Linked DNA regions of Homo sapiens. The protein of the gene in region 1 purifies or fractionates together with the protein of each later gene. This does not show direct contact. Each region holds a gene or a part of one and is shown in the gene's direction. Other genes may lie near its edges.

Region 1 (4,048 bases):
TTCACATGCCCGACCACTGTACTTTATTGTTTCTCAAGAGCTCAGGTGTCCTGATTTCCCAGCCAGTGCTCTTAGTAGAGGACAATACGTCTTTTAATAAATATACCATCACTCTCTGCCAGCTCAGGATAGCGCCTGAGACAGTAGCAAGCAATATGCTTTGAGAGGCCTCAGCTGTCTTCCTGGACTTGACCCTCAGAAAATAATAATTATTGATGGGGAAATTATGCTAATTATTTCACATATAGCATCTCCTTTGTTCTCCCAGAGATCCCCTGGGTTGTGGCATCACTACCAGCGGTCATCTCTATACAAACAAGGAAACTGAGGCTCAGAGATGTTACATTACTTGCCCACGGCCACACAGCTAGCAAGCAGCCAGGCTGGGATGCAAACCCAGATTGGCCAGACTCCCAGGCCTGTGCTTCTATCCCCTCTGCTCGTCTTGGAGGTTAGAACTGCAGTATTCAATGCAGTAGCCATTGGCCACTTATTTAAATTAGTTAAAATTAAGCAAAATGTTAAACATTCACTTCCTCATTTGCAGATGTTACAACCTGATTTTCTAGCCACATTTCAAGGGCTCAGTAGCCAAATGTGGCTGAGGGCTATGGTATGGGACAGCACAGGTTAGATGGGCCCATATTTTACTGGGCCCCATGCTGCGTTAGAGAGCCTCCAGCATCCCATTCCCTCCGAGTCTTCCCAGGGCTGCGTCATCTAGGAATGGGGTCTTCATTTGAACCTATGCTGGTTTTTCCTGGTGCTATAAAGTTTATCTTATTTGGCCTACATATCATATTCTTTGCTGATGGCTCAGGGTCCCAGGCTAGATGCACCGGTTGGTGGGGGAAGGGACCCATCCCATGCCACCTGTCCTAGAAAATGTTTCCCCTTGTTGAGCAGCTGCTGGATCTAGGGCTGCTGGGTCTAAGTCCAAGAGGGGAGAAGGGAGAAGGTCACAGTTAGAGTAGGGGAAGCTGCAAGACCCCCCCTGCCAGAACTCTCCCAGCCTGCTTCCATTTCCCTCTCCAGGGAACAGGTGTACCTCCCCTCCTCCCTGTCCTCCTCAGATGCCCCAGGGCTCTCTACTTCATTCCTGCTGACCCTGCCAGGAGTGGCCTCAGGGGTAGAGGCTCCTAGTTGGAGAATTTGCTTGCAGGAAGGTGAAGACACTAGGGTAACTGGGCCCAAATCCCAAAGGTAATCCAAGTAACCAGTGGTGAGGTTCTGAGAATGGTGCATTCACGGGCGTGCCTGACTGGGACAGGGGCCAGGGAGGTGGACGCTCTCTGCCAGCCCAGGACCTGGCTCCCTATCTGCAATGTTTCCTCTTTCTTCCTCCTTGTAGGGGAAGACGAGTCTCAGGCAACTATTCTAGGCCTCCCCTCCTAGCCCCCCATGTCACACAGTAACTTTCAAAGCTCCTTCTGGGCCAGGCACAGTGGCTCATGCCTGTAATCCCAGCACTTTGGGAGGCTGAGGCAGGTGGATCACCTGAGATCAGTAGTTCGAGACCAGCCTGGCCAACATGGTGAAACCCTGTCTCTACTAAAAATACAAAAAATTAGCCGGGCGTGGTGGCATGTGCCTGTAATCCCAGCTACTCGGGAGGCTGAGGCAGGATAATTGCTTGAACCCGGGAGGCAGAAGTTGCATTGAGCCAAGATCGCGCCACTGCATTCCAGCCTGGGCGACAGAGCAAGACACAGTCTCAAAAAAAAGTTCTTTCTGGGCAAGAGTCGCTCTAGAACATTGATGTTGCAGTTGCTTCTGGACTCAGAAGGTAACCACCAGGAGGGCTAGGGGTGCTGTAGCCAAGCAGGTGAGTGGGTGGTGCAGCCCTCTGCCCCCCTCACCCTACCCCCAGCAGGTCTGTGGGTACCCCTTGTGCAAAGGTTCTGTCAAGAAAGAGGAGGGTCGGGCTCTGTGGTTGGGCTGGGCATGGTGGCTCATGCCTGTAATCCCAGCACTTGGGGAGGCTGAGGCGGGCAGATCACCTGAGGTCAAGAGTTCAAGACCAGCTTGGCCAACATGGTGAAGCCCCCTCTCTACTGAAAATACAAAAATTAGCCAGGCATGGTGGCGCATCCCTGTAATCCCAGCTACTCAAGAGGCTGAGGCACGAGAATCGCTTGAACCCAGGAGGCGAAGGTTGCAGTGAGCCAAGATCGCACCACTGTACTCCAGCCAGGGTGACACAGCGAGACTCCGTCTCAAAAAACAAAGAGAAAAAGAGAAGAGTGCTGTGTGTTGAGTGCCTATGATGTAGGAAGTATCCTGTCTCCTTTAATACAACCACCTCCATAACAACTTTCATTCATTCATTCCACGACTAGTAATTGGTGGCTAAACACATGCCAGGCACCATGCCAGGCTTTGGGGATACAAGTTTGGAAAAGGTAACCTCAGCTCCTACACTCCTGGAGGGCATGGTGGTGACAGTTACGCTAGCATAGTAAGGGCTGTGATGGGGCATGCATAAAAGGGGCTGTGGGAGCTCTGGGCAAGGGAGGGGACCCGGGGACAGGGCAGTCTAAGCAGGCCTTCTGGAGGAAGTTTAGAAACTGGGTTTAGAGGAAGAAGTAGGGACAGAACATTCTAGATAGAAGGAAGAGCACGTGCACTTCTTCATGGCTGGGCCACAGCAAGACTCACCAGACACAAGGCTGCCCAGTCAGGCCGACTCCACGTGGTGCAGGTCCTAAGAGCTGTGGTGAGTGAGTGGAATTTCTCCTGAAGGCAGTGGAGAGCCACAGAGAGGCTTCACACCAGGGCACAGCCTGGACCGATCTGGACTTCAGGATGATCATATCAGTTGCAAGGTGGAGAGTAGATTGGCTGGAGTGGAGGACAGGGAGGTGACCCAGAGAGCTCAGAGTGGTTAAGTAACTTCTCCCAGGCCACTCAGCTTCTAAATTGCAGAGCCTGATTGGAGGCTAAATCCCTCTGACCCCAAAACTTTCCCCACTGCCCCGTGTTGCCAGATGCTGTGGCAGGAAGTATAACATGCATTGTTCAGCCCCTGGCTTCTGGGAGCATGGGATCTGGCTAAAAAGACCAGACTGTCACCATGGGCAGGGGCCCAGCAGCCCAGAGCAGGCAAGGGGCTTTGCAGGAAAGCGAGGCAGTAAGAGTCCAGGTTCTGGGATTATCAGGAAAGGATTCCCCAGGAGAAGCCAACTTTGACCTTGACAGATGAGTAGAATCCCCCAGAAAGGAGGAGGGTGTTTCTGGCACAGGACATGAACAAGGACACTGAGGCCCAGGGTGAGAAGCAGGGAGACGAGCAGGGAAGCTGGGGCGACCATAGGACAGAGGAAGGGCCTGCACCCCCGCCTGCCACGCCAAGGAGTGTAGTCCTCATGGCAGAAGTGGGGAGCCACGGAAGCTCTTTGAGCAGGAAGTGACACAAGATGAGAGTCTCAGAGTCACTGCCCCAAATGACACAAGAGATTCTAACTTAATGTGCCCCATGATGACATCATAGGCTCCCATTCCATGCAAGAAGCAGCCAAGGCTTAGACACTGGAAGTCATTTACGCAGGGTCACCTTAAATCACATTAACCACTAAGTGGCACTCATTCTTCAGAACTCAGTTCAACTGTTATTTTCAGATGCCCCAGGCCAGCACAGTCGCCCACTTACAGGCTCTCACAGCACCTTGTACTACTTTATGGACCTCATTACAATTCTTACAATTGTAATTAAAGAAGTAACTGGGAAGATTTGTTTTAATGTCTTTCTCCTCTGCTAGCAGATAAGCTGCCAGAGGAGGTTTTCTTGCCCTGGGCGGCTCCCATAGTTCATGTGGAGTGCTTTGCCTGCAGTGGAGACTCTGGCTGTGCTTATTGGAGGGAGGCCTGGGGAGGAACGGGGAGGGCCGCAATACTCAGTCTGTGAAATTTGGTGTCTGATCCTCTGTCCTTCTTCCTCCTCGTCCTCATCCCTCTTCCTCACCCTTCCCCACTCCTCCTCTCCCCACTGCAGGGGGCTTCTGGCTTGGTGTGGACCAGGAGGGGGCAGAAGGCACCCTGTCGTGGCTGG
Region 2 (8,071 bases), on another chromosome or scaffold:
GCATGTATTATTGAAAAAGGTTAATTCCTGTGTTATATTTCTTTTTAAGTGACATCTCCTAAGAAAATCATCTTCCCCATAGCTCTTCTTTATCAATCATTTTTTTCTTTTAACTATTTAGGGATTTAATAATTGGCCCTTTTGTTCAGCATTGGATAAGCCCCACCTTTAGATAATTTGGGATTTAATATTTGGCCTTTTTATCAGCACTAGATAAGCTCCAGCACCCTCCTCGATTAATATTAGGCCACTAGGAAAATTTTGCTTCACTGCAAAACTTCTTAACTGATATGTGGGAAATAGGGTACAGATGTGCCTAGATGCTGATTTCCCTCAGTTCTCAGAGCAGCCAGGGTCCTCAGGGTGGGGGGGTTGGGTGATTGGCAACCGCTTCCATTTTCTCCAGTGTGCTATACAAATATTAGCATTTTCTACGTGTGCCATGACATGAAAAATGTTGTGCAGCACTGCAAGGAGCCAGATTTTTTGCCCACATTGTTTTCAAACTTAAAATATAAGAATTTCCATTTGGTTTAGATCTATGGCCCCATCAATACAAAATTCTGTCCCTTATGAGCAACATCTTATAGATCTGCCCTGACCTGGAAAGATCCCACAGTATGTTGTTTAAATTTAAAATTTTATTAGTTCTAAAATTAAAAAATAAGATATACTAAATTACATCCTAGAGAAACTGGGTTATTGATTGGTATAATCCGAGTTGTCAGGCAAGGCTTTATTTTTTAAAAAATCAGGAGTACACATTGCAAGTCAGGGGTAAAGAATTATGACCAAAACCAAAAAGGTAACTTCTCTTTTATTGCCTGAATCACAACAAAATGTATGTGGGTTAGGAGGTTGGCCAGACCTCCAGACTGAGGTGGTTGCCTGAAACCAAAGGAGCTGACAACCAGATTTCACCCAGTTTTCTATACATCAGTTCTTCCAGAATTTAGCATAAAGATTTATTCTCCAGCCGGGCACGGTGCCTCACGCCTGTAATCCCAATACTTTGGGAGGCCGAGGCGGGCAGATGACGAGGTCAGGAGATCAAGACCATCATGGCTAGCATGGTGAAACCCCATCTCTAGTAAAAATACAAAAAATTAGCTGAGTGTGGTGGCGGGCGCCTGTAGTCCCAGCTACTCAGGAGGCTGAGGCAGGAGAATGGCGTGAACCCAGGAGGTGGAGCTTGCAGTGAGCCGAGATCGCACCACTGCACTCCAGCCTGGGTGACAGAGCAGGACTCCATCTGAAACAAACAAAAAAAAAAGATTTCTTCTCCAAAAGGAAGTCTAACTCCTTCTCCAGCCTCTTTCAACTAGTAGTAATTCCTCACGCTCCAGAATAATCAGATTTTCCTGTCCTGCCATAGAGAGGAAAGGGAATCAGTCTCCTTCTTGGTTTTTGTGGGATTGTTTTAAGATGTACACTAATGATAAACCAACTTTTCTACCTCTGGGGTAAGTGAATGCAACTTTGCCCTGGTGTCTTGTGGCTAAAAATAATCCAGCTATAGTCTCCAAGACAGCAAGAATCTGGATGAATGGCTGTCGCACCAGAGAGAGCAAGCTGGTCTTGGTCTTGGATCTGGATGAATGGTCTTGGTGTTGAATCTGGATGAATGGCTGTGGCACCAGAGAGAGCAAGCTGGTCTGTTCTCATTCAGAGGAACTCTTAGCTGCATAATTTCAGATTTGAATGTCTTAGAGTTCATCTCCAGCTGATCTGTATTATTATCCGATTAACTTTTCTTATCACAGCAGGTCTATGTAAAGAAAATACAGCTATTCCTCAACTTGCGATAGGGTTATATCTCAGTAAACCCCTTGTAAATTGGAAACATTGTTAGTCAAAAATACATTTATTACACCCAACTTACCAAGCATCGCAGCTTAGCCTAGCCTTCCTTAAACATGCTCAGAACACTTATGTTAGCCTACAGTTAGGCAGAATCATCTAACACAAGCCTATTTTATTAAAAAGTTGTGAATGGCTCATGTAATTTATTGAATACTATACTGAAAGTGAAAAAAGTGCCCATTGTATGGGCACTCAAAGTACAGTTTCTACTGAATGCATGTTGCTTTCACACCACCATAAAGTCAAAAAATCGTAGTCAAGCCATCCTAAATCAGAGACCATTTATAATACTTCCTCTGTAACCATTGCAGTTTCTCAAGTGTCAGAACAGAATTTATTATTCTTGAAAATGTTTTTCATCATCTGGAAACATGGTGCTCTTTAGGGTTTACAGCAGTTTTGGGAAAAAATGAAAACATGGTGCTCTTAAACTTATTACATTTGGACATATATTTTGAGGGTTTCTTTTCAATAATGGTGATGGATTTGTGCAGATACATCTGCTGCTTGAACATGTTTTTTCTACTTATCAAATGCAGGTAATTCTGAAACTACTGAAGTAAGGGTGCAGTTAGTTAAAAAAAAGTAGACAATTTACAACAGTCATTAGACTGCTTTTGATGTTGTGTCATCTGTCTATATTGAGGACATATAGAATTTGTCACCACTTACTATAGGGATGTGGTGGTTTGCTATGTTAAACAGTCCCCTCTTTAAGAAATAGACAAGACTATTGTAGCAGGCAAGTGCTTTTTTTATTTTATGGATGCTGTTTAGTACCTTTTGGGACTGACTGCTAGGAAACTTAGAGTCAGATTTGCTGTCATACTCTAAGAATTGCATAGGATCTTATATCATTCTATCATTATTTAGTTTTTGTTATTCATTTATTTTTTGATCTATCATTAATGCGTTTTGGAATGAGGCAGGCTTTTATGGAAATACTCTCACAATTCTGATCTCATTAACACCAGATTTTTAGCTGACTGTACTACATGTCTACTGCTATGGAAAAGATTCTTAGTTTGGATATATTCCTTTTAGTACCATTAGTGGTCGTTGCAGTTAGCCACTTTTTGCAGGTATGTGTGCTAAGCCTTTAAAATCTTTGTTTTTCACAGGTCATAGAGAAGAGATACTTTTTAAGAGAAGGTAATCAGGTTGGTATCTCTTTTCTTGATAAAATAGATTCTTAAATTTTGATAGGTGATTTCCAAATTTAAGTTCAGAAGTAGTTTTAAAAAGTTGGGGAAAGCCCTTTATAGGCACAAGCAACTGATTTCCTTCTATCCTGTTAAATACAAAAGGAGAAAATCAGAACAAAGGGAAAATAAGGATCTAGGAAACAAATATAATCTAGGAATAAGATTACATTATAAAATAGAAGAAGAAAATAATTTGCTTGGGACTCCAAGAGTATACGTTCAGGGTCTGTCACAATACAAATAATTTCTATAAAAGTCTAGTAGGTATTATGAGATTTACCTTCATTCTTTCTGATTTAGATGACACTATCACCAATTTGTTGGGAAATGTTTTCCATTTGGGTAAGATTTATTTTTATTATTTAATCTGTGGTTTTCTGAGTAAAACCTCAGAAAGTTGTTTTTTTAAGAAACAGCAGGCTGACATACAGAAATGGAAAAGAAGGGAAAAATTACTATTAGTATTTGAACTTTTATTGCTTGAGACTTAATGCAATTATCTTTCTTGCCTACAGATTCCAGGCTTTCCTGATCGGAAAAGATTTGGGGCAGGAACATTAAAGAGCCTTCATTATGACTGAATTACACTCATCCTTTGGAAGAGTGAGCAAGCAGTGGCAGTTTTTCACAGCTCATCTTGCTGTGTTCAATTATTACCATCACAGCCTTTTAACAAAATCATCTTAAAATGCTACCCTTCAGCCTTACCCTTTAATGGAAAAATGAAAGGAAGTGACAATACGGGAGGTCCAAACTTTGTCCCTGTTCTCTGTGTTCCTTACCTTTCTGTCCCTGTGTATAGATTATGTAAAAGCCTTGTGTAAATATGAGATGTTGTCAAAATGATGCAGTAAATGAGCAATGACAGTGTACTGCAGAGAAAATTTACTCTTGCCTAGAACTGGAGGGTTTTTATGGGTCTGTAATTTTCCCACACTCATTGCTGAAAGCTTAATTAAGTACTTCAAAAACGTATCTCCATTGTTTTACCTTCTTGAGGGGAACGGTCTTGTTAACCAGCCCTGAGTTGTCTACCCCAAACAATCTCTGTCATTTTCAAAGATGCAAAATGGTGTTATTTAATTGTCTCCACCATTGTCACACACAGGAATGCCTAATAATAGCAACCCTTGTCTCCCTCTTCTCTCCTTTGCAAATGGCTCAGTGACTGGAAGAGGCGGACTAATAGCCAGAGTTAAATATAAATACAAATTAATAATACATAGAGAACAGCAATACCAGAAAAAAAGAATTCTGGTAAAATGATGTGAAAAATTGACAGCTCCCTCACTCTTAAGGTTGCTGCTATATACAGTCTAGGTTTTCTGTTTGGAAATAGGTAGGGTAAAATCTAAGACCTGCACAAGGGCAGTGAGAGACATTTACAGCCTCCTCTCTATTTGTTTTTTTAAGGAAAAGTCAACTCCTGAAATGTCCCTTAGCTATAATCAGAAAACTAAGAATATTATTCTGTGTCAACAATGTATTTATGGAGAGAAGTAAAAATAAGTTCCACAGCAACACATTTACATGAATTATGAACTAGGATTCTTGGATTTCATAATCACTCCAAAGCTTTTTGGGGATGGTGTGTGTGTGTGTGTGTGTCCGTAATTGTTCATCATTACTTTTTTTAACCTATCTTTTTGCTTGCTTAATCTTCTCTGCCCCAGTTCTTCCTGAGTATATGAATTTGATTTCTAAAAACAATTTATTCAACACTCTATCACCCGTATTCTCTCTCTGGCTCTGCTGCAGGTCTCTGCACTCCTGATTTTGCTCCATACTTTTAAATAACAATAATAAATATACAGTTTTCATTTCTCATTTAAAAAATAGGTGGAAAACACCAAATTCACTTTCTGTTCCATTTTAATTAGGTTTCAGAAGTATCTTGGAAATCAAGGTATGCTGCAAGAGGATATTAAAATAAGAATGTTAGAGAGTCCTTTTAGAAAGGCAGTCTTGGGAATTTGGAAAAGGATTTTTAAAGCAGCTTTCATCAGCTAGACTGTTCTCCAGCCTTTCTTTACTTCCTCTTTGAAAGGACATAGCCCTGGTTTCTTTTTGACACAAAGGAAAGCTATGCAAATCATGATCTGTATGTAGAATTGGTCACAAGTATGTTGTTGCATAGGCTGTACAGTTGGGAAGTAGAAACCAAATGCTACCCAGAGACCTAACCCAATTAAGCTCTTTGTATTTCTCCTTCAAGAAATAAATCTTCCTTCCTTCTTTCTTCCTCTTTCTTTTAATTTTAAAAAAATTCATCCTGATTTTTTTATTTTCTATCTTATTTAAAAAATAAAAATAGGCCAGGCGCGGTGGCTCACACCTTTAATCCCAACACTTTGGGAGGCGGGTCGATCACTTGATATCAGGAGTTTGAGACCAGCCTGGCCAACATAGGGAAACCCTGTCTCTACTAAAAATACAAAAATTAGCCAGGCCTGGTGGCACGCGCCTGTAATCCCAGCTACTTGGGAGGCTGAGGCAGGAGAATCACTTGAACCTGGGAGGTGGAGGTTGCAGTGAGTCAAGATCGTGTCACTGCACTCCAGCCTAGGTGACAGAGTGAGACTCCAACTAAAAGAAAATAAATAAATAAATATATAAATATATAAATAAATAATAAAAGTAAACTATTGCTGATGACTCCAGGGTCAATCTGGAAAAATTAACAGTATTCCTCAACTCCATTACTTTCTGCAGCCAAGCTTGATTCCTTGAATTATAGTTTTCTAAGAAAAAATAGTTTTTAATAATCTAAGGTAAATTTGTTGCAATTATTAGCAGCAGCATAATAAGGCTTTTTGCGCAAATGAATGTTATTAGCTAGAGTTATTCAAAAAAGAATGAAGCACAATTTTTGCTAGGACTTCTTGAGAACTATTCATAAAAATGCTTTTAGATAATAAACAAGTATAAATGTCAAAATATTTTTTTAAAAGTATAATTGGCCAGGTGCTGGCTCACGCCTATAATCCCAGCACTCTAGGAGACTGAGGCAGGAGGATCACTTGAGCTCGGGAGTTTGAGGCTGCAGTGATTCATGATTGCACCACTGCCTTCCAGCAGCCTGATGACAGAGTGGGACTCCATCTCTTTACATATGTATATCTTACTCTCTTGATGGGACAAGTTGGTAGAAATAAAGATTTTTTTTTTCTGTTGTGATTTCGGTGTCTGACCAATTTTCTGACTCATTGTGAAGGTGACCAGATATGAAGGCATATATATGACTACTCCTCTGTCCCTTAGGTGTATAAGACTTAGCTGGAATCCAACTAAAGATTTGGGCTGGTCTCTCCATCTTAACGTTGATGGGATTCAGGACACATAACCCCAAAATATTGCACCCTGTTATTTGAGAAAACTGCAGAAGCAAGGTTTCTCATACCTTCCCCTTACCCCTTCTCCCCTGAAGCAGGCCATAAACCCTAAGTGACTGTTCCCTGAAGTAGATCATAAAACCTTCATTCCATAGGTACCCTTTATCCTCACAGATACAGAGACACCAAGAAGAATCTGGACAAATAGGACTTGCTAAGTTCTCCACAGTTTATTACCATTAGATTATGTCCTTTTGTCCTCTGATTATACTTCTGCATAAGACTGTACATAAAAATACACAAGTTTTCCTATTTCTTTTTTGTCTTCATTTCTGAAGATTCCTGTCATGTAAAACTTACAGTAAATAAATGTGTGTGCTTTTCTCAATAATCTGTCTTTCGTTATAGGTGCCTCATTTGTGAACCTAGTGATGGGTGAAGAAAGAAAGCTCTTCTCCGCTACAGTGCTCTAAGAAAAGCTATTCCCAAAAGAGTTGATCCATATTAGCTTTAGCTCGGGTTCTTAGAATTCCTCAAACTTGAGGCATTCATGATATAATCCAGGTGCCCTGACACTTGTTTTTCTGTTCATTCTGACATGGACTTCATGGAAATGATGTGCAGGGACATCAGACTGAGGTGAAGAGCTCCTAATTGCTCCTTGTAATCAGAGTTTCTGAGTCCTCATTTCAATAGTTTGCAGTAGCACCCACCATAGGTAGGACCTTGTATGGGTTACTAGATGGTGGCTTAATTGAATTTTTTAAAGCACAGGTGACATCATATTTTAAGAAGTTTAAAGGTCTAACAGGGTGTCTGCATTGGTTTAATATATGTTAAAATTCAAAGGAGGAGTCTGTTTTGGGGAAAGGAGGAGAAGGAAATTAGAAATTCATTTCTCCGCAGTCCCAAGACTGAGCTAAATCACTGTGGTGGGAGAGGAAGGGTCGCAGGAAGTCTAACCCTGTGTCTCAAATATTTCACAACATGTTTGCCTACACAAAATATCTGATGTTAGGGTCAGCTGGGGCTGCTCCATAGCATAGTAAAGGAATTGGACATCCAGTTACAATTAATCTGCACCTCCATTAAGGACTCACATGGAGGGCTTTCAAACTCTGAAGTGTGTAAGAATCCCCTGAAGTGCTTGCTGAAAATGCAGATTCCACGATTTCCTCTCTCTTCCCTTACTCTCCCCTTTCTATATGTATAGGATAAGGCCAGGATTTTGTATTTTTAACAGACAAGCCAGATTTTTCTCATGCAGATAAGTCAGGATCTAGCCTTTAAGAAAGACAAATAAACTCATCAAAAAGTAGGGAATATAGATTGTGAACTCTGTACTTTATGAGTGCCATTATAGCAGAATTCATCAAAGCGCATCTTTGACTGCCTCAACCTGATCTCACCTTAATGAACTGATCCACTCCTCCCCACTCAAAGCTACATATGCCAAATTAAACATGAGATGATTGTCATGTCTTCTGTTGGCAAAACAAGTATTTGTCTTTCATGTATTGCTATCATTTTTATTACTGCCACTGTTTTTCCCCTGGGTTCTGTTTTTAATCCAAATATATTTATTTCTAACCAGTGCCTTGCCATCTTACACACAGCCCCCTCTCTAGTACTGTGTTTTCTCAGCTGGCTAATCACTAAGCTTTACCGAGG
Region 3 (6,592 bases), on another chromosome or scaffold:
CTGCAGGTACCAGTTCCACCCGTGGCAACGGCCATCACCCCCCTGGCCACCATACCCCGCCCCAGCTGCCATCATCCCCCAGTCGCCATTGTCGCCCCCCAGCCACCATGTCCCCCAGCCACCACACCCTGGTGACTGTGCTGCCATTTCCCTCAGCTCTCCAGGCACAATAAACAGCTGCAGCACCTGCTGAAGCCGGTGAAGCGCATTCAAGAGGAGGAGGCCGAGGGTATCTCTTCCATGGTGGGTGCTGGCCCCGAGACTGGGGTGGGGGTGGGGCCTGGAACCCAGGGAGGACACTTGACCCAAGGGCGTGGCCTGGAACAGAGTGAGGCCCTAGAATATGAGCCAGGCTAGAATTTGGGGGTACAGCTCAGGGGGCTGATTGGGACTGGCAGCCGTGGGTGAAACCCAGACAGAAATGGAAGCAAGGCTCAGGTGGGTCTAGGGTGGGTCTGGAAGCTTCAAGCAGGACCCGGGCTACACTTGGGCAGGACTGAGGAGGCCCCCGCTATCCTCTGGGATTCTCTGGTCATGGCTCTCCCACTCCCCTCCCTTTGGCACCAGGTTCTCAAGGCTCAGTCCTAGTTGGGCTGGGCTTGGCCTGCTCTGGCTTGGCGGGGACACTCGCTGAAGTGTAGTTCAGAGCTAGGCGAAGGCCTGGGAGGGTGGGGGCTGAGTGCCAGCCTGGATGTGGAGGCTGGGGCCTGACCTCCGCGCCCTCCCCACCTCCAGCTCAGCCTCAACAACAAGCAGCTGTCACAGATGCTCAAGTCCTCAGCGCCAGCACAGGAGGAGGAGGAAGACCCCCTGGCCTACTATGAGAACCACACGTCCCAGATCGAGGTGGGCCTGTGGGCAGCAGGGGCGGGCGTGGGAGCCTGCGCCGGGCGTGACCATGTGCTGTGTGTGCTCAGATTGTGCGGCAGGACCGCAGCATGGAGCAGATCGTGTTCCCAGTGCCCGGCATCTGCCAGTTCCTGACGGAGGAAACCAAGCACCGGCTCTTCACCACTACTGAGCAGGACGAGCAGGGCAGCAAAGTGAGCGACTTCTTCGACCAGTCCTCCTTCCTGCACAACGAGATGGAGTGGCAGCGCAAGCTCCGCAGTGAGGACCCACGGGCGGGAGGGTGGGGCGGTCTGGAGCTGTTCACTGATGCCCTGTTATAACGGCCTCCTTTGCCTGCCTGTGGGTGCCCTGCGCCCAACCCCGCCTCACCCCAAGGAAGGGCTCTTCCATGTGTGGCTTCCTCCTGAGCGGGGCCCCACATGCAAGGGGCAGGGGGTGCTCACCAGGGCCCTCCAGCAGCTCACCGTTGCCCTCCTCTTCAGGCATGCCGCTGATCTACTGGTTCTCCCGCCGCATGACCCTGTGGGGCAGCATCTCCTTCAACCTGGCCGTGTTTATCAACATCATCATTGCCTTCTTCTACCCTTACATGGAGGGCGCGTCCACAGGTGAGAACACAGGGCTGGCCGGCAGGTTCCCCGGGCCCTGCCATGCTTCCTCCCTGGGTTGGGGCAGAGCCTTGAGGCCAGCTGGCCTCTGAGGGCACCAGATGCAGAGTGTGCAGAAGCACCCCCTGCGCCATCCTGTGGGCTCTCGCCCCATCATGGAGACACAGGTGCGGTCAAAGGGGATGGTCAGGGTCTTTGACCTCATGGGAGATGGCGCATGCAGGCACGTGCACACGCATAGATGTGTCAGCCAGAAACAAAACCTGGTAGCCGCAGCCGGACAGGGCCTCCCGCTTAGGCCTGAGAGGCAGGTGTAATGGAGGAGGCTAAAACCAGGCACCAGGAACTTAACCGGGAAGGCGGCCAGGAGAAGGTGGCTTTTCGGCACCTGTTGGACCTGCTCTGGGGCCGTGGTGGGCTTGAGGGAGCCCTGCTCACCCTGCCCCTGGCCCCCAGGCGTGCTGGACTCCCCTCTCATCTCATTGCTCTTCTGGATCCTCATCTGCTTCTCCATCGCGGCCCTGTTCACCAAGCGCTACAGCATCCGCCCCCTCATCGTGGCGCTCATCCTGCGCTCCATCTACTATCTGGGCATCGGGCCCACACTCAACATCCTGGGTGCCCTCAATGTGAGTGCCAGAGGGAGCCCCCATTCCCAAACAAGCTCATGCTCACTGTGCATTCAGACGGCAAGCTGGCCTGCTGCTTCCAGGAGCCACTGCTCTGTCCCATCCCCTCCTCTCTGTTGGGCTCCCAAGTTCCTTATAGACCGGTGGCAGGGACTGTTCTGTACCTTCTTCCTTTCCCTCAACACCTGAGGGCAGCTGGCACTCAGAGACAGAAATTCAAGAGTCCCTTTGGAGCAACAGGGTCAGGGTGGCTGTGCACACTGTGCGGGCTGTGCACTGCCCAGAGGCACTGCTACGCGGCAGACGTGAAGATTCATACATAATGACAATCTCCTGACAGATGGAAATAAAGTGCTTTGAGCGAGGAATACCTTTCCCTGATAGAGCCAGTCAGTGGTCTTCTCTGTCCCCATCCTCCGTTGCCTGTACCTCACTGTCTTCCTGGAACTGAGGACCCAAGGGGCTGCCTCTGTATTCTGAGTCCCAGGCGCCTAGATGCGTTTCTGGAAGCAATTTCATTAATGCCATGCCTCCCAGGCTCTGAGCTGGGCACTGGGGGACATGCGTGCAGATTCAGCATAGGTGGTAGGGTGCTGACTCTCATGCCTTGCACTCGCCCCCAGCTGACCAACAAGATCGTGTTTGTGGTGAGCTTCGTGGGCAACCGTGGCACCTTCATCCGGGGCTATAAGGCCATGGTCATGGACATGGAATTCCTCTACCACGTGGGCTACATCCTGACCAGTGTCCTGGGCCTCTTTGCTCATGAGCTGTTCTACAGCATCCTGGTGAGGCCTTCTGGGTGGGCTGGGGCTGGATGGGGGCATGGGGTGGTTGGGGCTTCCCATGAGTTGTTGGCAGTTCCCCGGCACCAGTCTGTCTGTCCAGTCCTTTTGCTGCTGGGCTGGGAGCAGTGAAATTACAGAGTCTTCATCTGCCTGACCCAAGCCTGGCCCTCAAGGCCCTGATGGCCACTCCTGGTGGCCATCTGACCCCTTTCTCCTGTACAGTGGTGGTTCAAGCCTGGACTCTGGAGCTGGACCAGGGCTTTGCATCTCAGCTGGGCTACTACTAGCTGTGTAACTGGGCAAGTTTCTTAACTGCCCCATGCCTCAGTTTCCTCACCTGTAAAATGGGGATAACAACAGCCCCTGCATTCTAAAATAATTGTGAGATGAAATGAGCTAATGCATGGAAAGCACTTACACTGTTTCCTGGCATGCAGCAAGTACATTTTAAGAGTTGGCTGGTATTCAGCCACCCGTTTCACCCCTCGTGCCTTCCCCTGGGCCACTCCCTTTCTGTGACCTTAGAATTCCAGGTTTCTCGAGAAGCTCCCCTGACAGGCCCACCCAGCTTGGATACGACTAAGTGCAGACCTCCCTGGAGGAGCCTTGGGAAACTGTCTGGAGCCCAGGCAGCCCTCAGGGTTCCAGTGGCAGCCCCAGTGAGAGTGGCCGGCCCAGCCCCTCAAGGTGCCATCCCTATCTCAACCCCATCCTGCAGCTCTTTGACCTCATCTACCGCGAGGAGACGCTGTTCAACGTCATCAAGAGTGTGACCCGCAATGGCCGCTCCATCCTGCTGACAGCCCTGCTGGCCCTCATCCTGGTCTACCTCTTCTCCATCGTCGGCTTCCTCTTCCTCAAGGATGACTTCATTCTCGAGGTCGACCGGCTGCCCAACAACCACTCCACAGGTCTTGGAGGCTTCCTCTCCTGGGCAGGTTGTGGGGAATGAGGTTGGGTCTCACAAATGTCTGGCGTCAGGACCAGGACCTGCAGCGCTTACCTCACCAGGCTCCCGTCTGCTTCTCCTCTTGGCTTCTGGGGACGTCTAGCTAACACCAGTCTGCCTCGCTCTTTTCTGGAACACACTGAGTGGGTGGGAGAGCCTTGGGTCTCTGGCCCCTAAGGAACCCCTTGCTTGAGGGCTGGAGTCCCTTGAACTGTCATTCATGTTAAACCCAGTATTTGCAGAAACTGCCCGTGTGCCAGGCCTAGGGGTACAGAGACCCCTCCCTGCCCTTAGTGTGCAACCCAGTCGGGGGCAGAAGCGTGATGACCCTTCACTGTGGCTGGACAGTGGAGGGCTGGCGATCCAGGACCAGGGAAGGTTTCCTGGAGGATGTGACACTGGGGACAGAGCCAGGGGATAAGGCCAGGCACTGGACCTCCTGATGATCTCATCCATATCCCCTCCAGCCAGCCCCCTGGGGATGCCACATGGAGCTGCTGCATTTGTGGACACCTGCAGTGGGGACAAGATGGACTGTGTCTCAGGGCTCTCGGTGCCTGAGGTCCTGGAAGGTGAGGGTGGTGTGTGTGCAGGAGTCTGTGTGGGGTAGGAGGAGCAGGCAGCCCGGGCCTCAGCACACTCTCCGCTTGCAGAGGACAGGGAGCTGGACAGCACAGAGCGGGCCTGTGACACTCTGTTGATGTGCATCGTCACTGTCATGAACCATGGGCTACGCAACGGTGGTGGCGTGGGCGACATTCTCCGCAAGCCCTCCAAAGATGTGAGCACTCCTGCCCACTCCCAAACCTGTGGGGCCCAAGCCACTGTCCAGATCAGCAACTGTGGAGAGTCCTGTCCTTGGCCTCGCGTCAGATATTCAGGGTTGAACCCCCTCCCCCGAACTTGTATCCACTTTTCCCTGCTTTCCACACCTGGCCAATTCCATGATATTACTGCTTAGCTGCCCCCTCACCCTCCCATTCCATAAGGAAAGACTTTGGCAACCAAACTTTGCCCCAGGGCTAGGGATGGTGACCACTGGCTTTCCTAGCCCACAGCAGGTGGGCAGAGGGCGGAGCTGAGTCAGCTTTATCAGGAGGCCTCATGATTTGGCTTGGGCAGCCACATTCCCGAATGTCAGGCCTTCCCCTGTTGCTTGGGAGTGAGAGGCCGCCTCCCTGGCCAGACAGAGGGTTTCTGGAATGTGTGAGGCCAGGCGTCCTGAGGGTGGGCAGAGGTGTTCAGAGCTGCCTCTTTCCCTCATCAATGTTAGGGGCAGAGACACACCGAGACTCGTAGCCCTACCTCCCCGCCAGACTCCTTCTGCAGGCCTCCACCCCGGCGTGTCCTGAGTCCACGCTTTCCTAACCCAAACTCAGGGCTTCTGCTTGCAATTCTTGCTCTGTGGAGCCAGGTTGGGTCCACTCTGCCATCTGATGGCCCCCAGGCCAGAGGCCCTCATTTCCTTCTGCTAGGGGCTGGGTCCTCAATATCACAGCCCTGGCCCCAACCTGAGTCCTATCTTGCCCCAGTGAATGTGGGGACCACCGGGCCCAGCCTCCCTGCCTCATCCCCTGCAGGAGTCTCTCTTCCCAGCCCGAGTGGTCTATGACCTCCTGTTCTTCTTCATCGTCATCATCATTGTGCTGAACCTCATCTTTGGGGTAATCATCGACACCTTCGCTGACCTGCGTAGTGAGAAGCAGAAGAAGGAGGAGATTCTTAAGACGACATGCTTCATCTGTGGTGAGGGCTGCTTCCTGCTCTGTGGAGGCCGCAGCGGGGCTGGAACGTCATCTGATGCCAGTGGCAGTAGCGGTTTGGCCCTTCCTGCCCTGGGGAACCCTGGCCCGGAGCTGATGACTTGATGCATTTGCTCATCCCAGAACTGGGGAGAACATGACCCTGCCTGAACTTGGAGTCAGAAAGGAGTGGGACAGGCCCATCCCTGTAAACCCTTGGGGTTTCTAGGTGAGGACATGAGCCCAGTCAGTGTCTGGAGCTTCTGGTCTCAGTCCAGTGCTTTTCCTACCCCTGAAATGAAGTGCTAGTCCCCTCACCAGCCACCTCGGGCTCAGGCAGGTGTCACCTGTATGGCCTGTAGGACCTCGCTCATTCAGCCATTCGGGCTTCCCCTGAGTTCGAGAAATTCTCGCGTTTACTCCTGGAGTCCTCGGTTGCTGCTGCGGGAGGGCTGCAGCTGCGGCAGGGCAGGATCTCCACTAAGTGGCTGCTGCTTTAAATAGAAGTGACCCAAATAGCCCAGAGCGAGCTGTTGGAAGCGCTCATCCCGAGAACAAATGCCTCCAACCCCCGGAAGCTGGGTCCCCTCCAGCAGGTGACCCTGCAGTGGCTCTTGAAGGCTGATGGTTTCATTCCCGCCCTCTGCACCCTCAGGTCTGGAGAGGGACAAGTTTGATAACAAGACAGTGTCATTTGAGGAACACATCAAGCTGGAGCACAACATGTGGAACTACTTGTACTTCATTGTGCTGGTCCGCGTGAAGAACAAGACCGACTACACGGGCCCTGAGAGCTACGTGGCCCAGATGATCAAGGTGTGAGCAGGGGCTGTGCCAGGCCTGTGGGCCCAAACCAGCCATTCTAGAGTCATCACTGTGCACCAGAGGCCTCATGGTTTTAGCTTCTGAGTACCCTGGGCCCTGGAGAGGAGTGGCCCTATCTGACTGTTGGCCCTAGGAGGCCAGGCAGAGGGGCTCGGACAGCTGCAGACACTTGTTGAAAGGTCAGCAGGGCGAGGAGCAG
Region 4 (8,532 bases), on another chromosome or scaffold:
GTTTTAAGAATGAAGCATCAAAAAAGAAAAGGTATCAGAAAGCTGAAATAGCAAGGTCGTGGTTAAGATCATTAGATACATAGGATATGAGTTGAATTTTTCATAGCCCCTTTTATTAAAACAATCATTTAAAAAATATATTTTTGACCCTGGTACTCTACAAAGCTTAGTACATTTTTTTTATTTAAAAAAATTTTTTTATTATACTTTAAGTTGTAGGGTACATATGCACAACGTGCAGGTTTGTTACATATGTATGCATGTGCCATGTTGGTGTGCTGTACCCATTAACTTGTCATTTACATTAGGTATATCTCCTAATGCTATCCCTCCCCCCTCCCCCAACCCCACGACAGGCCCCGGTGTGTGATGTTCCCCTTCCTGTGTCCAAGTGTTCTCATTGTTCAATTCCCACCTATGAGTGAGAACATGCAGTGTTTGGTTTTTTGTCCTTGCTATAGTTTGCTGAGAATTATGGTTTCCAGCTTCATCCATGTCCCTACAAAGGACATGAACTCATTCTTTTTTATGGCTGCATAGTATTCCATGGTGTTTATGTGCCACATTTTCTTAATCCAGTCTATCATTGATGGACATTTGGGTTGGTTCCAAGTCTTTCCTATTGTGAATAGTGCCGCAATAAACATACATGTGCATGTGTCTTTATAGCAGCATGATTTATAATCCTTTGGGTATATACCCAGTAATGGGATGGCTGGGTCAAATGGTATTTCTAGTTCTAGATCCTTGAGGAATCGCCACACCGTCTTCCACAATGGTTGAACTAGTTTACAGTCTCACCAACAGTGTAAAAGTGTTCCTATTTCTCCACCTCCTCTCCAGCACCTGTTGTTTCCTGACTTTTTAATGATCGCCATTCTAACTGGTGTGAGATGGTTATCTCACTGTGGTTTTGATTTGCATTTCTCTGATGGCCAGGGATGATGAATATTTTTTCATGTGTCTGTTGGCTTGCATAAATGTCTTCTTTTGAGAAGTGTCTGTTCATAAAAGCTTAGTACATTTTTTACTTGTATAAATTCCAAATAGGCTAAAAGCCTACTGACAGTATTGACAGTAGCAATGATGATGTAGGTGTCACTTGGGTTAAGTCACAGGAAAACTCAAACCATAGTGTCACAGAGGCTACCCTTTAGCTTTGCATGCCCAGAACACAATTTAATAGCAAAGATAGTGGATCTGTCTTCTGGGAGGTGTGTATATTGACTAAGATCATAAGTTTTATATTATTATTGAGAGAAACTATTTGTCCTGTTCATTTTCTTATTATGTTTCAAAGTCATTGAGATTAAGAATTTATATTTCAGCACTATTAGTTCTATAATTATGTGGCACTAATGTTTTCATTTGTGAAATAACCTCTCAGCTACATAGCTATCTAGCCCTGAAGCTGACTTAACAATGTTTAAACTTTAAGTATTTGTTTTAATTGAAGTGTAATTTATATACAGTAAAATTTACCCTTGTTAAGTGTACGGTTCTATGAGTTTTGACAAATAAATACAGTTGTGGAGCTATCACCAATCAAGATATAAAATGGTTCCATCGCCCCCAAAAGTTCTTCCTTTGTATAGTCAGTTTGCTCCTTTGTAGTCAGCCCCACTCCCAGCTCCTGATAAGTTTTCTATCCCTATAGTTTTGTCTTTTTGAGAATGTCATATACATGGAATCATACAATACGTAACCTTTTGAGTCTGGCTTCTTTCACTTAACCATAATGCATTTAAGATTTATCCATGTTGTTGCATGTATCAAGAGTTTTTTTTTTTGAGATGGGGTCTCACTGTGTCACCCAGGCTGGAATGCAGTGGCACAATCTTGGCGCACTGCAGCCTCAGCCTCCGGGGCTCAAGTGATCTCCCATCTCAGCCTCCCAAGTAGTGGAGACAACAGGCGAGTGCCACCATACTCAGCTAATTTTTTGTATCTTTTTGGTAGAGATGGGGTTTCAACACGTTGCCCAGGCTGGTCTTGCACTCCTGAGCTCAGGTGATCCGCCCACCTTGGCCTCCCAAAGTGCTGGAATTACAGGCATGAACCACCACACCCAGCCGGGAGTTCCTTTTTAATTGCTGAGTGGTATTCCGTTGTATGGATATATCACAGTTTGTTTATCCATTCATCAGTTAAAGGACATTTGGGTTGTTTCCAATTTTGGTAATTATGAATAAAGCTACCATAAATATTTGTGTACAGGTTTTTGAGTGAACATAAGTTTTCATTTCACTTGGGTAAATACTCATGAGTGGGATTGCTGATCATATGGAAATTGTTTATTAAACTTTACAAAAAACTGCCAGGTCAGTGGCTCACACCTGTAATCACAGCACTTTGGGAGGTGAAGGCAGAAGGATCGCTTGAGGCCAGGAGTTCAAGACCCGCTTGGGCAACATAGTGAGACCCCACCTCTACAAAATGGATAAACATAGCCAGGCAGAGTGGCATATGCCTGTAGTCCCAGCTACTTGGGAGGCTGAGACAGGAGGATTGCTTGAGCCCAGGAGTTTGAAGCTGCAGTGAGCTCTGATTGCACCACTGCACTCCAGTGTGGGCAACAGAGCAAGACCCTGTCTCTATAAAAAAAAAATTAATTAAAAATTTAAAAAAGAAACTGCCAAACTATTTTTCAAAGTGGCTATGCCATTTTGCCTACCAGCAGTATATGAGAGATACAGTTGCTCTGCATCCTCACATCACTTGCTTGGTATTGTCAGGTTAATTTGTTTTTAAGAGACAGGGTCTGCTCAGTCTCCCAGGTTGGAGTACAGTGGCATGATCATGGCTCACTGCAGCCTGGACTGCCTGGGCTCCAGCAATCTTCCCACTTCAGCCTCCCAAGTAGCTAGGACTACACTACATGTGTCTGCCACCACACTCGGCTAATATTTTTATTTTTTGTAGAGACAAGGTCTGGCTGTGTTGCTCAGGCTGGTCTGAAACTCCTGGCTTCAAGCGATCGTCCCACCTTGGCCTCCCAAAGTGCTGGCATTACAGCTGTGAGCTACTGCACCTCGCCTAGCTTTAAAAAAAAATGTTTAGCCATTCTAATAGGTGTGTAGTGATGTTTCATTGTAGTTTAACTTGCATTTCCCAAATGACTTGTATTTACCTAAATGTTGAGCATTTTTCATGTACTTATTTGCCATCCATATATCTTTGGTAAAATGTTTATTCAAATCATTTGCCCATTTTTTTATTGGGTTATTTGTTTTCTTATTATTGAGTTTTTCAGAGCTCTTTATATGTCCTGGATACAAGTCCCCTGTTATATATATGTTTTGCAAATACTTTTTTCCCAGTTAATAACTTGCCTTCTCTTAAGAGTGTCTTTTGAAGAGCAAACATTTTCAATTTGAGTAAAAGTCCAATTTCCACTCACTTTTTCTTTTGTGGATTGTGTTTTTGGTTTCACATCTAGGAATTTTTTTTCTTTTTCTGAGACGGAGTCTTGCTGTGTCGCCAGGTTGGAGTACAGTGGCGCGATCTCGGTTCACTGCACTATATGTATATGTATGTATGTATGTATGTATATACACATACACCATATATATGTGTGTATATATATACATACATATACAAAACAATTGCTTACTAGATGCACAAATCAATGGAATAGAGAGTTCATAAACAGGCATATCTCTCTTTACATATATATATCTATATCGATCACACTATATATATGTGTGTGTGTATATATACACACATATATGTGTGTGTGTATATACACACATATGTGTGTGTGTATATACACACATGTGTGTGTGTACATACACACATGTGTGTGTGTATATATATACACACATATATGTGTATATGTGTATATATGTGTGTATATATGTGTATATATGTGTGTGTATATATATACACGCATATATATGCGTATATACATATATATGGACTCATATATGTGTATATACATATATATATATATATATATATATATATGGACTCACAGTGTGTCCTTGGACAAGTTATATAGTCTCTGTGTGCCTCAATTTTCTCAAGTATAAAACAGAGATAATTATAGTACACAACCCTTATGGGGTTTTTATGGATTGAGTGAATGATTATAGAGCACTTAGTATGGTGCCTGGTACATATATAGTGCTTCTTATACTCCTGAATCTTTTTACTTCTATTCAGACTGGATTTTCATTGGAATTAACAAATCCCATTATTTTATCTCACATTATCATTATGGAAATTTAACTGTGGAGATGAATTTTAATGAAAAATTTGTATTGCCGCTTAGTAAGATAATAAGATGTTCATTTTTGTTTTCTGTTAGGAAAATAATGCTTAACTTGGTTTAATAGCTGTAGGACATTAAATTGATATCAGACGAATTACAACTCTTGAAATTTTTCTTTGATTTTTTTTTTTTTTTTTGAGACAGAATTTGGCTCTTGTCTTCCACGCTGCAGTGCAGTGGTGCGATCTCGGCTCACTGCAACTCTGCCTCCTGGGTTCAAGCGATTCTCCTGCCTCAGCCTCCCAAGTAGCTGGAATTACAGGCGCCCACCACCATGCCCAGCTAAGTTTTGTATTTTTAGTAGAGACGGGGTTTCACCATGTTGGCCAGGCTGGTCTGGAACTCCTGACCTCAGGTGATCCACCCGCCTCGGCCTCCCAATGTGCTGGGATTACAGGCGTGAGCCACCACGCCTGGCCACTTTCCTTGATTTTTTAAAGTATATCCATTACCTTTTAAGGATTGTAGTAAGAAATAGTCTAGGCCAGACACGGTGGCGCATGCCTGTAATTCCAGCACTTTGGGAGGCTGAGGTGGGTGGATCGCTTGAGTCCAGGAGTTCGAGACCAGCCTGGACAACATGGCGAAACCCCATCTCTACAGAAAATACAAAAATTAGTTGTGCATGGTGGTGTGCACTTGTAGTCCCAGCTACTCAGGAGACTGAGGCGGGGAGGATTGCTTGAACGGTGGAGGTCGAGGCTGCAGTGAGCTGTGAGTGTGCCACTGCACTCCAACCTGGGCAACAGAGTGAGACCCTGTGTCAGAAAAAAAAAATACAGTCTAAACTAAACTCACTTCATAAGTGGCTCTTAGGAAAAAATAATTTAAAACATGACCTTTCCATGTTTGTGATTCTAGACACTTTATTTCAGAACTAGTAACCTGCAAAATTACGAAGGATTTCAGTTTCAGTTGTTTATTATTACTTTTTTTTTTTTAAAGTGTCAGGGTCTTGCTTTGTCACCCAGGCTGGAGTGCAGTGGCATGATCATGGCTCACTGCAGCCTTGAACTCCCAGGCACAAGCAGTCCTCCTGCCTCAGCCTTCTGAGTAGCTAGGACTACAGGCGCACACCACCATGCCCAGCTAAGGGTTTTTGTGTTTTTTTACCCCCCTTCCACCAACTCACTTCAAATAATCTGCTAAGTTTTAAAAAACTTTTTTAGAGCTAGGGGAGTGTCACTGTGTCACCCAGGCCAGTCTCAAACTCCTAGTCTCACTAGGCCACTGGCCCACTCTCAAGTAGCTGGGATTACAGATGTGAGCCACTGTGTCTAGCTCCTAATGCTTTTTGTTTTGAAAAACTTTCAGGAATTGTTGAGAAAGTACAGCAACATAAATCTTAAATTTCTCCTTGGAAGGCCGTGCTGACAATCCAACTAATTTTATACTACAGAACTATTTAGCTATAAAATCTTTAGCTATCAGATTAATTTCTCCCTATGAGCTAGGAAAAGTGGAGCGTCCAGAGAAAATACTTAGGGTAGTAAATTACATTTAACTCCTCAGCATTGGCAGCTGTTATGGACTGAATGTTTGTCAAATTCATATGTTGAAGCCCTACCCCCCTACACATGGCTGTATTTGGAGATGGGACCTCTAAGGAAGTAATTAAGGTTAAGTGAGGTCATAAAGGTAGAGTGCTGATCTGATAGGATTAGTGTCCTTATAAGAAGATTCAGTTAGCTTGCACTTGCTCCCTCCCTCTCCTTCACACAGAGGACAGGTCTGGTGATGACATAGCAAGAGGTTGGCTTTTGCAGTCTGAGCAGACTAAAACAGGCTGCCATAACAAAATACCACAGACTGGTGGCTTAAATAACAGAAGTTTATTTCTCACAGCTCTAGAGCCTGGGAAGTCCAAGATCAAGGTGCTAGCAGATTCAGTGTCTGGTGAGGGCTCTCTTCCTGGCTTACAGACAGCTGCCTTCTTGCTGTGTCCTCACATGGCCTTTCCTCTGTGATTCATCCTTCTGCCTTACCTCCTACAGCCATTGAATTACCAGTCTGCTGATTCTGTTTCCTCAGTATTTCTCAAATTCATCCCATCTTCTTCTTCCCTACTAATTACAGCTCTGGTTCCAGCCCTTTCTGTATGACTACAATAGTCTCTCCGATCAATCCATGTTGCATGTGTCCTTATCTCATCAGAGTAATTATCCTGACATGTAAATTTTGCTTATTTAAATCTTTCTGTGGTTCCCTCTTGTCTGTGGATAACTTCTAAGCTTTATATAATACGGTTTCTGCCTACCTCTGTAGCTTCATCTACTAGCATTCTGATAGCATGTGTAACACCAAACTACTTTCAGTTTTCCTCCTACTCCCTGAAGAATTTTACTTTGTTCCGTCTGTTACTTTTGCCTGGCATGGGAAGGGAGGGTCCTTTATTCCTACCCCTTTTACCTAATGAGCTCTAGCTTATCCATTCTCATGTTTTGCAGAACTTCCGCCCCACTTCTCTTCCCCGCCCCAGATGTCCCTTCTCTGTCCCCTCCAAAATATTCTCAGCATCTCTCATTACATGGTCAAGTTGTTTTTAGTTTAGATGAATGTTTACTTTTATGGAAAGAGCTGGTCCTATTCATTTTAGTGCCTAAAACAATGTCTGGCTCATACTGGGTATTCAAATATTGGTAGAGTGACTGAACATCCAGAAAGTTAAGGGGATTTTTTCAAGATCCGGTTGCTTATAGGGGACAAAATTGGGACTGGAAAATGAGTACTTCTTTTATTGCCTCATACTGCAGACCAGTGTTCCTCCTAGTACAGCATGTAAAACTGGCTAAGTACAATATCTATTGTGCAATTACTAAGTCAATTTAAGCTCATTTGCTAATCATTAAGATGATTAAATTTTGCTTTGTAAATCAAATTTTTACATATTGTATATATGGGAGCCTATGGTGCATGAATGGTTTTGCATGAAGTTTATATAGTCACAAACAGTTAAAACAGTTGAAGTAGATAAGAAAGTCACATGGAAGAAACAAAAATAGGCTTTTAGTGACCATATTTTGATAGGTCAGGTAAAATAAAAAAAATTAATGTGACATTTTCCAGGCATACTGTTTAAAAGATTATGTGGGCCGGGCTCGGTGGCTCACACCTGTAATCCCAGCACTTTGGGAGGCCAAGGCAGGCAGATCATCCAAGGTCAGGAGTTTAAGACCAGCCCGGCTAACATGGTGAAACCCCATCTCTACTAAAAATACAACATTAGCTGGGCATGGTTGCACACGCCTGTAATCCCAGCTACTCAGGAGGCTGAGGCAGGAGAATCACTTGAACCCGGGAGGTGGAGGTTGCAGTGAGCCAAGATTGCGCCATTGCACTCCAGCCTGGGTGACAAGAGTGAAACTCCATCTCAAAAAAAGAAAAAGGCCGGGCACGGTGGCTCACGCCTGTAATCCCAGCACTTTGGGAGGCCGAGGCAGGTGGATCACAAAGCCAGGAGATCGAGACCATCCTGGCTAACATGGTGAAACCCCATCTGTACTAAAAATACAAAAACAGGGGCCAGGCGTGGTGGCTCACGCCTGTAATCCCAGCATTTTGGGAGGCTGAGGCGGGCAGATCACGAGGTCAGGAGATCAAGACCATCCTGGGTAACACAGTGAAACCCCATCTCTACTAAAAAATACAAAAAATTAGCCAGGCATGGTGGCGGGTGCCTGTAGTCCCAGCAACTCGGGAGGCTGAGACAGGAGAGAGCCGAGTTCATGCCACTGCACTCCAGCCTGGGCAACAGGGCGAGACTCCATCTCAGAAAAAAAAATACAAAAACAAAATTAGCCGGGTGTGGTGGCAGGCACCTGTGGTCCCAGCTACTTGGGAGGCTGAGGCGGAGAATGGCCTGAACCCAGGAGGTGGAGCTTGCAGTGAGCTGAGATTGCGCCATTGCATTCCAGCCTGGGCGACAGAGCGAGACTCCGTCTCGAAAGAGAGAGAGAGAAAGGAGGGAGGGAAGGAAGGGAAGGAAGAGAGGAAGGGAGGGAGGGAGGAAGGAAGGAAGGAAGTAGCGAAGGAAGAAAGGAGCGAAAGAAGGAGTGAAGGAAGGAGCGAGCTATAGTTTGGAAGATCTAAGAATAGAAATGGCCAAATTTGAAAAATTGCGTTGTAGCTTAATAAATGCTTGAATCAAATTTGCTTGCATTTACATATTGTGATTCTTGTGCCTTCAGGTTCTTCTGTTTTCTGTAGCATATTGCAGAAATCAGTTGGGGTTTAGAAACTGAGACCATACATTGATTTGA

Evidence for each region.
Region 2: the proteins of SLC35C1 (region 1) and RABL3 purify together in Homo sapiens (affinity purification with mass spectrometry; one large-scale study listed by BioGRID and IntAct). This does not show direct contact.
Region 3: the proteins of SLC35C1 (region 1) and ITPR3 purify together in Homo sapiens (affinity purification with mass spectrometry; one large-scale study listed by BioGRID and IntAct). This does not show direct contact.
Region 4: the proteins of SLC35C1 (region 1) and RP2 purify together in Homo sapiens (affinity purification with mass spectrometry; one large-scale study listed by BioGRID and IntAct). This does not show direct contact.

Annotation. Positions count from the first base shown.
Region 1 is NC_000011.10:45,806,785-45,810,832, forward strand, and holds part of SLC35C1 (GDP-fucose transporter 1), read left to right. Parts: intron 1-1,351; coding exon of another isoform or gene 1,352-1,395; exon of another isoform or gene 1,396-1,758; coding exon of another isoform or gene 1,759-1,786; intron 1,787-3,991; coding exon 3,992-4,048. UniProt on the Homo sapiens protein: Antiporter specific for GDP-l-fucose and depending on the concomitant reverse transport of GMP. Involved in GDP-fucose import from the cytoplasm into the Golgi lumen.
Region 2 is NC_000003.12:120,685,401-120,693,471, reverse strand, and holds part of RABL3 (rab-like protein 3), read left to right. Parts: intron 1-2,984; coding exon 2,985-3,023; intron 3,024-3,368; coding exon of another isoform or gene 3,369-3,410; intron 3,411-3,583; coding exon 3,584-3,649; 3' UTR 3,650-8,071. UniProt on the Homo sapiens protein: Required for KRAS signaling regulation and modulation of cell proliferation. Regulator of KRAS prenylation, and probably prenylation of other small GTPases. Required for lymphocyte development and function. Not required for myeloid cell development.
Region 3 is NC_000006.12:33,687,322-33,693,913, forward strand, and holds part of ITPR3 (inositol 1,4,5-trisphosphate-gated calcium channel ITPR3), read left to right. Parts: coding exon 1-6; intron 7-156; coding exon 157-243; intron 244-735; coding exon 736-846; intron 847-917; coding exon 918-1,110; intron 1,111-1,334; coding exon 1,335-1,460; intron 1,461-1,916; coding exon 1,917-2,089; intron 2,090-2,712; coding exon 2,713-2,877; intron 2,878-3,595; coding exon 3,596-3,788; intron 3,789-4,293; coding exon 4,294-4,398; intron 4,399-4,479; coding exon 4,480-4,607; intron 4,608-5,406; coding exon 5,407-5,572; intron 5,573-6,223; coding exon 6,224-6,384; intron 6,385-6,592.
Region 4 is NC_000023.11:46,843,992-46,852,523, forward strand, and holds part of RP2 (protein XRP2), read left to right. Parts: intron 1-8,532. UniProt on the Homo sapiens protein: Acts as a GTPase-activating protein (GAP) involved in trafficking between the Golgi and the ciliary membrane.